2 linked regions of the Homo sapiens genome follow. The protein of the gene in region 2 purifies or fractionates together with the protein of the main gene of each other region. This does not show direct contact. Each region holds a gene or a part of one and is shown on either strand. Other genes may lie near its edges. The genes, in order: SLC18A2 and ECE1.

What was found.
Region 1: the proteins of ECE1 (region 2) and SLC18A2 purify together in Homo sapiens (co-immunoprecipitation; one large-scale study listed by IntAct). This does not show direct contact.

What each region holds. Positions count from the first base shown.
Region 1 is NC_000010.11:117,251,061-117,254,873, forward strand, and holds part of SLC18A2 (synaptic vesicular amine transporter), read left to right. Parts: intron 1-2,338; coding exon 2,339-2,397; intron 2,398-2,987; coding exon 2,988-3,071; intron 3,072-3,344; coding exon 3,345-3,437; intron 3,438-3,813. UniProt on the Homo sapiens protein: Electrogenic antiporter that exchanges one cationic monoamine with two intravesicular protons across the membrane of secretory and synaptic vesicles.
Region 2 is NC_000001.11:21,255,651-21,259,463, forward strand, and holds part of ECE1 (endothelin-converting enzyme 1), read right to left. Parts: intron 3,190-3,813; coding exon 3,043-3,189; intron 1,941-3,042; coding exon 1,875-1,940; intron 489-1,874; coding exon 297-488; intron 1-296. UniProt on the Homo sapiens protein: Converts big endothelin-1 to endothelin-1.

The sequences.
Region 1 (3,813 bases), on a different chromosome or scaffold from region 2:
AGGGTTCCATATTAGAGCCTTATAAATAGCCAAAATGAAGAACTGGTGAAACAAGAGTGAAGCCCCTAATTCCAATAGCTTTGATACGTATTGGTACTTCAACAACTAGATTTTCCAAATATATATTGAACAGAGGGAGAAGCCTGTGTTTATTCCAGGACAGCCCGGAAGATTGTCATATGCCCGTTCTTTCATGGGACAAACTGTAGTTGCTGAAAATAAATTGCCTGTGAGTTCTCCTCTCTGAGCCTCCTGGACGTTTCCTGATTCAGTATCCTGCAGTGCCGTGTGAGCCCCCGGTGTTGGGTTTCTTTTGTCCACATGAATAAGGGGTACAGAGAATCAGCTCTGGGTGGGCTGAGACAGAAGAAGCTGTCACCCGATGGCCATCTGAACTGCAGGTCAGAATCCTGGCATCTTCTCTGGTTTACCCAATTTGCTTGGGGCCCCACTTTGTGAATTACAAGCTCATCTCTGTTCACAGCAGGGGAATCTTTGCATGGTTTGTGGGAGGGGACTGACTGTCTGGGAATCTGTCATGCTTGTGAGTTACTCTCTGTATTTTTGGTATTTGGTTTCTGGATACAGGTGAAGCAGTTAAAAAATATTTGAATATGGTCAAGAGAACTTTTGGAAAGATTCTATTTAAAGCTATATATGCCGTTTGGGTACTGGCGGAGGTGGTAAAATTTACAAGGAAAAGCCATGTGGGAATGGCCCAGGCGAAATTAGTCTGATGACATCTGATAAGTAATGACAGATATCATGCCTCAGTTTCCTCATCTGTAACATAGGGAGGTGAAATAGGGCCCTTATTAAATCATGACTAAATCTGGTGGGTGTAAATGCTTGGAGAACTGAGTGTAAACTTTAAATGAAGGCGCTATGATTATTTTTTATTTATTTATTTACTTTTGAGACAGAATCTCGCTCTGTCACCCAGGCTGGAGTGCAGTGGCATGATCTCAGCGCACTACATCCTCTGCCTTCTAGGTTTAAGCAATTCTCGTGCCTCAGCCTCCCAAGTAGTTGGGATTACAGGTGTGCACTACTATGCCTGACTCATTTTTTGTATTTTTTTTTTTTTTTTTTTTTTTTTTTTTAGTACAGACAGGGTTTTGCCATGTTGCCCAGGCTGGTCTTGAACTCCTGAGCTCAGGTGATCCGCCCACCTCGGCCTCCCAAAGTGCCAGGATTACAGGCATGAGCCATCATGCTCAGCCGATTACAATTTTTTATTAAAGCCTGGAATGGAAGAACCCTTCCAGGCTGTTGCCAGAGCTCAGGATGCTTGGCCCTTCTGCCTTCCTGGATTCATTTCATTCCTCTCCAGGTTCCTGAGGGTCCAGAGCTAGAGACAGAAGAGACTTAGAGATGTTTCAGGCTCTTCTGGGTTGGAGCAAACCTTCAATTGGGCAAGAGCTCAGCCACTGTTGGCTTCCTCTCAAGGCAGAGGGGCTGGGAAGCTGCCTGTACCCTCATGCCCCACCCACAGAGCAGGGACCCAGCTGTCTACTTAATCCAGCAGAAACAGAGGACAAAGAAGAAAGAGAATGAGGGAGGAGATGACATTTCTTAGGCACCTTCTATGCTCTAGGCACTGGTGTTAACAGTTTAACATCCATATCTCTTTCTGTACTCCAGTCCTGGGAGGTGGGCGGTGGTCTCTCCGAGGGACTGAGAGGAGACCTCCCTAGATTAAGTGGCAGGGTCATGTGTCCAGCCAGACATGGCATAGGGGAATGCCAGGGTCTTTCCACCAGCCCTGTTGACCTGGCGCCAGAGTCCTAGGTGAGCAGTGGTCTCACGGAGCAATTTGGATTTTGAAATTTTGCACAGAAAATGAGACTTTGTCTTTCTGGGTTGGCCTCATGGGGTCAACAGGAAGGCAGATCTTAACATCTTGCTTCCTAATGCCTCTTAGACATACTGCAGTCTGCCAGTGGAATCACTTGATGGCCTTTTACCCGAATCATTTGATTGCAGTGGCTCCTTTGGGAGAGCTTTAGCAAAGACTATAATTAAAGGAATCATTTTTTAAAAATGACAGAAATAGGGGCCGTGTATTTTGGATGTGTTCTGGGTTACTTGCCAATATTGTGTTAACATTTATTCCAAACAAATTTCTGTTCACAGTGGCAGTCCATAAATGTATTCACGTTCCAAGACAGTCAAACACAAAAAGGTCACATAGGAAGCACTGAGTATATGAATTTTCAGAAAAGTCCACCAAACACTTATCTGTCTGATCCCAAAGGGTAGCCAGGCGAAAATCAATATAAAGCCTTAAAAAAATAGCCTGCAGTCACCAGATTTGTCTGATGTTTGTGTTTTGCAGAATTGGCTATCCAATTCCCATATTTGCGGGATTCTGCATCATGTTTGTCTCAACAATTAGTAAGTGTGTGGTGTTTTCCTTCTGAGTGTGGGTCTCATCAGGGTGGGCATTGATGCCCATGAGCCGGGAATTAACAATACAACCTAAGGACGGCGGGGGGGCGGGGGGGGTCGTGGTTGGCTCATGCCTGTAATCCGAGCACTTTGGGAGGCTGAGGTGGGCGGATCATCTGAGGTCAGGAGTCCGAGACCAACCTGGCCAACATGGCAAAACCCCGTCTCTACTAAAAATACAAAAGGTAGCCAGGTGTGGTGGCATGCACCTATAGTCCCAGCTACTGGGGAGGCTGAGGCAGGAGAATCACTTGAACCTGGAAGACGGAGGTTGCAGTAAGCCGAGATTGCACCACTGCACTGCAGCCTGGGCGACAGAGCAAGACTCCATCTCAAAAAAAAGTATATGGCCTGGGAGGTTTGTGTATTGGCAACAATTGCAGAAAGGAATTGATAGCTTTTTACGGAACAAAAGCACAGGGTGGCTAACATGCAAATGCTCCACTGGGTTAAGGGGGGCTTCTGAAACGTTCCTGTTTGGGACGGTTGTGTCCCAGCAGCACTGATGTGCGGTCTTGGACCCCCTCTCTCGGCAGTGTTTGCCTTCTCCAGCAGCTATGCCTTCCTGCTGATTGCCAGGTCGCTGCAGGGCATCGGCTCGTCCTGCTCCTCTGTGGCTGGTAGGTGTGGAATGCCTGAGTGAGTTCGTGAGGGGCCCCTTGCAGAGTGAGCTGGACTCATTCAGGGAATTCAGGTATTGGTGGTGGTTGGGGTGCTGGGGATTCTTGGAGAAGGCACCCACTTTCCTCTTGGGTTCTGCTTGGTCTTACATTTTAGTGAATCTGACAGGTTTGGGAAGATCACAAGGCTGGCTGGAGAGGGAAGGCGAGTCACGCATTATTCTTTTGCTGTTCCCCGGAGCTGGCCTGTTGACTATTTCTTTCCCTGTGTAGGGATGGGCATGCTTGCCAGTGTCTACACAGATGATGAAGAGAGAGGCAACGTCATGGGAATCGCCTTGGGAGGCCTGGCCATGGGGGTCTTAGGTGGGTAAGGCCCCCGTGTAGGCAAACTGGCAAGAGGGGCCTGCCTGGTGCTGGACAGCGGCAGTCCTCGCCCAGTGACCCTGGCGCAGTTTGCACTGACACAGAGGTCCCCTTTTTATTTTTTTCCTTTCCTGCTTTCATGGAGACTTTGAAAAATGGTAGGAAGAGCCCTGAGCTGGGGGTGGAGGGGATCAGGACTTCCCCTGCCTCTGCCCCAAACCTCCCTGGGCCCAGATGGAAAACCAAAGGTTGAACAGGATGGTCTGCCAGACCCTTTCCTCGGGAACATTCAGTGAGTTGTGATCACGGAGAACCTTGCTTTCTGGGTCTGCCTCCCCCAGCTGCCCTGGCTGACTTCCCAGACCAGGGGACAAAC
Region 2 (3,813 bases):
AGCTGGTGTGGTCATGACCCCGAGCCTCCAAGTAAACACTATTAATTACAGAGAAGCAGCCTGGTGTCGGCCAGGCGCCTATTTTGGAGTCACTTACTAGCTGTGTGCCCTTCAGCAGGTAACTTGACCTTTCTGAGCATCAGTTTTTCCATCTGTGGACTGGGCATAACAACCATCCTTCCTTTGTCACATAGTTTCAAGGACTAGATGAAATGAGTATAAAAGCCCCCAGTCCAGGGCCCTGTCTGAAACCTGGAGGCCATCCCAGCCTCCCTAGCAGCCGGCGCTCAAGTTACCTGCAGCTCGGCTGCCGTCACTTTGTGGTAGATGAGCTCCTCATCACGGCGCTTCTCCTGTGGGATGGTGATGTTGGCCAGTGCCGTCTCAAAGTCCAAGATCTGCTGCATCTGGGGCCGGATGGCCTCCTCGTCCCCGCCGCCCAGCAGCTTCCCCAGCTGGACCATGTAGTTCAGATATCCGGTCAGCACCTGCAGGGCCCATACCCCAAACTGTCAGTGGCTGCCCCCCCACTATCCACTGGACGAGAGTTGGTGGGGGGCTTGGCCAGCCAAGTCCGGCACAGGGAGCCAGGGGGCTGCACAGTGCCCCCAAGACACCCGTGGGGCCAGGTGTGGTGGCTCACGCCTGTAATCCTGGCACTTTGGGAGGCTGAGGTGGGTGGATCACCTAAGGTCAGGAGTTTGAGACCAACCTGGCCAACATGGCGAAACCCCGTCTCTACTAAAAATACAAAAATTAGCTGAGCATAGTGGGAGGTGCCTATAATCCCAGCTACTCAGGAGGCTGAGGCAGGAGAATCACTTGAACCCAGGAGGAGGAGGTTGCAGTGAGCCCAGATTGTGCGCCATGGCACTCTAGCCTGGGCGGCAGAGAGAGACTTTGTCTCAAAAAAAAAAGAAGAAGACACCCGTGGGAGACACAGCATTGAGAATGATCTCGGGGCCGTGTCTCTCTGCTGCTTCCCTACAGCCTCCAGGAGAAAGCCCAAAGTCTTGGCTCGTCTCACAGGTCCCCACCTGGGCTGGTCCCTGTCTTCCAGGGCTTGTCCTGGGGCTGTCTTTCCATTCTTAGAATGCATCTTTTCTGACCACCCCCCACCCGTGTTCCAAGATCTGAATTAGGTCTCCACGGTAGACTTTCTCAGCTTCACTTTCTCTTAGTTAAATAATATCCGCCTCGCCGACCAAACCACAGGCCCTGTGGGACGAAGGCTATGGTGGTCTTGTCTGCTACCATCTCCCCAGCATCAGGCACTCTGTGGGCGCTTGGTCAAGTACATGCCGGCGGAAGGATGAAAGGACAGATGAATGAGTTCCAGGTGAGGTCGCCCCAAGAGGCATCACAAGAGGCAGGCCAGGGGGAGGGAGAGCCATGGGCTTCGGAGCACGTGGATCCGGATGTGAATCTCAGGCTCGTCATTTACTGGCTATGTGACCTTGAGCAGATCACTTAGCATCTCTGAGCCTGATACCCTCTTCTGTAAAAGGCAAGACAAAACTAATTCCTGTTTGACAGATGAGGCAAATGAAGTTCAGTATCTGCAGGGTTAATGGGAGGGTCACAGGTGATGTATAAAGGGCCAGGCGAATTGTGGTAGCTGTTATTGCTGCCTCTGCCTCTCTCTAGAACCAGGACAAATGATACCTGTCTCTTGCCCCTTGTGTCCATGATGCCTGAGTGACACAGCCAGCCTAGGGGTGTCCCTCCCCTGCCAGGGTCTGCCTGTTTCACCCATCAGGTCACTGACACCCCTGGGCTCCCCTAGCTTCAAAGACCTGCACAGGTGTGGGTGTGGACACGGAGCAGGAAGGACCGTGCTGGGAGGCAGGCTGGGAGGGGAGAGGCACGCTTACCTTCTCGTTTTCAGTTTTGTTCAGGTAATAGTCTCTCGAGGGCAAGCCCAGGCCAGACTGGTCCACCTGGCAAGAGAAGCAGGCATGAGAGGGAATTCGTGTTGCAATGCGTGTATCCACTGCACGGCCTCCTGCCCTGGGAATGGCTGGCACATGGCAGCAGAGGCCCAGCTCAGGCCCTTGGAGAAGCAGGACTGCTGGCTACAGTCACTGAGAAGCCCACTCAGGGACGGGATGACACATTCCTGCCTGTCCACGTGGCCCCCCCCCGCAGGGCTCCTGGGCTCCTCAGAAGGGCTGGACAGAGCCACCCTCCTTTTTAAACAGCTACTTGCCTCGGCAAAGTGCCTCTATCTCCCCAACGCTTTCCAGGTGGTTAAGAGTCACTCAAAAGCTGTGTGATCTTGGCCAAGTTACTGAACCTTTCTGATTCTCAGGTTTCTTCTCAGGTAAATAGGGAAAATAAAACCTAACCTTCAGAGCTAGAATGGGGATTCAAGAAGACAGTGCTGGTCAAGTGCCTGCCAAGCAGGAGGGGAGGGTCAAATTCTGCTTGCTACTATTGGCACCCATGGCCACATCTTGGCATACCTAGGACAGGTGTTATTGCAATCCATTTGATTTATAAGGTAACTGTAGCTCTGAGAGGTTGAGGCACTTGCCCAAGGTCACACAGTGACTGAATGGTAGAGATGGGCTGGGAACTCAGCTTTTAGGACCCCCAGCCTGGGTTTCTCACTTCTGCATTGGAGGTTGGGGCAGACCAGTGCTGGAGCTCCCCTGGGCAGGCTGAGCCTCTGTCTGGGGCATGCTCTGACAGGGAGAGATGGATTCAAACCCATTCCAAGAAGAGTTACAAAGAGCAGACGCTAAGGAGGGGGAAACCAGGATGTGGGTTCAGCTGTGCCCAGGAGTTGACATCATTCTTGGGGCCCACGGAAACCCATCAGCACCCAAAGTTTCACCTGTATGCAGTGCCCATCTACGCAAGGCCAGCAGCCTGCAAAGATCTCACCAGTGGGGCCTCTGGAAATAACCCAGGCTCAGAAACTAGAAGACCGCCGTCCCACCCAGGGCAAGCCCCTCTCCCACCCCAGGTCCTGCTAAACTCAAAACAGGAAGAGGTCGTGCCCGCCCCCTCGACCGCTGCAGGTTCAAGCTAGCTCACCTGGATCACGTTGCTGTTGGAGTTCTTGGAATCGGCACTGACATAGACAGAGAAGAAGGGTGAGGTGCGGTAGTGGGCGGTGACCACCTGCAGGGTGTCCTGGAAGTTGTCCTTGGCCCAGGGACCTGTGATGTTCCAGCCCCCGAGCTGTGGGGAGGGAGAGCAGGCAGGGAGGTGATGAGGTGGCGGGGAGACCCAGATGTGAATTCTGGTTCTGCCGCTGACTTGCTCTGTGACCCTGGAGCAGTCGCCTGACCTCTCTGAGCCTCAAGAGCAAAGGAAAGGATTGGTCTTCATCGGGGGTTTCCGACCCATGAGCTGGAGACCCATGGATGGAGCAAAGGCTTATCCTAGACAAGCCAAGCAGCCAGGCATGAATCCAGCCGCTCCCTGGGTGGCTGGGATGAGAATGGGAAAGAGACTTTTCCCGGTTCACGGTTTATATTTTGGATAATGAATTGTGTGAATGTGATTATATCAAAACATAAATTCAATTGTGCCTCTGGGATAAAAAAGGCTCCACATGTTTAAGAAGGTTGGTAAATTACGGTCTACTTTAGTCTCAAAGTTGGGATTTTAAAAAAATTTTTTTTGAGATGGAGTCTTGCTCTGATTCCCAGGCTGAAGTGCAGTGGGGCCATCACAACTCACTGCAGCCTCCACCTCCTGGGCTCAGGTGATTGTCTCACCTCATCCTCCTAAGTAGCTATGACTACAGGTGTGTATCACCACACCTGGCTAATTTTTAAATTTTTTGGAGATGGGGTCTTG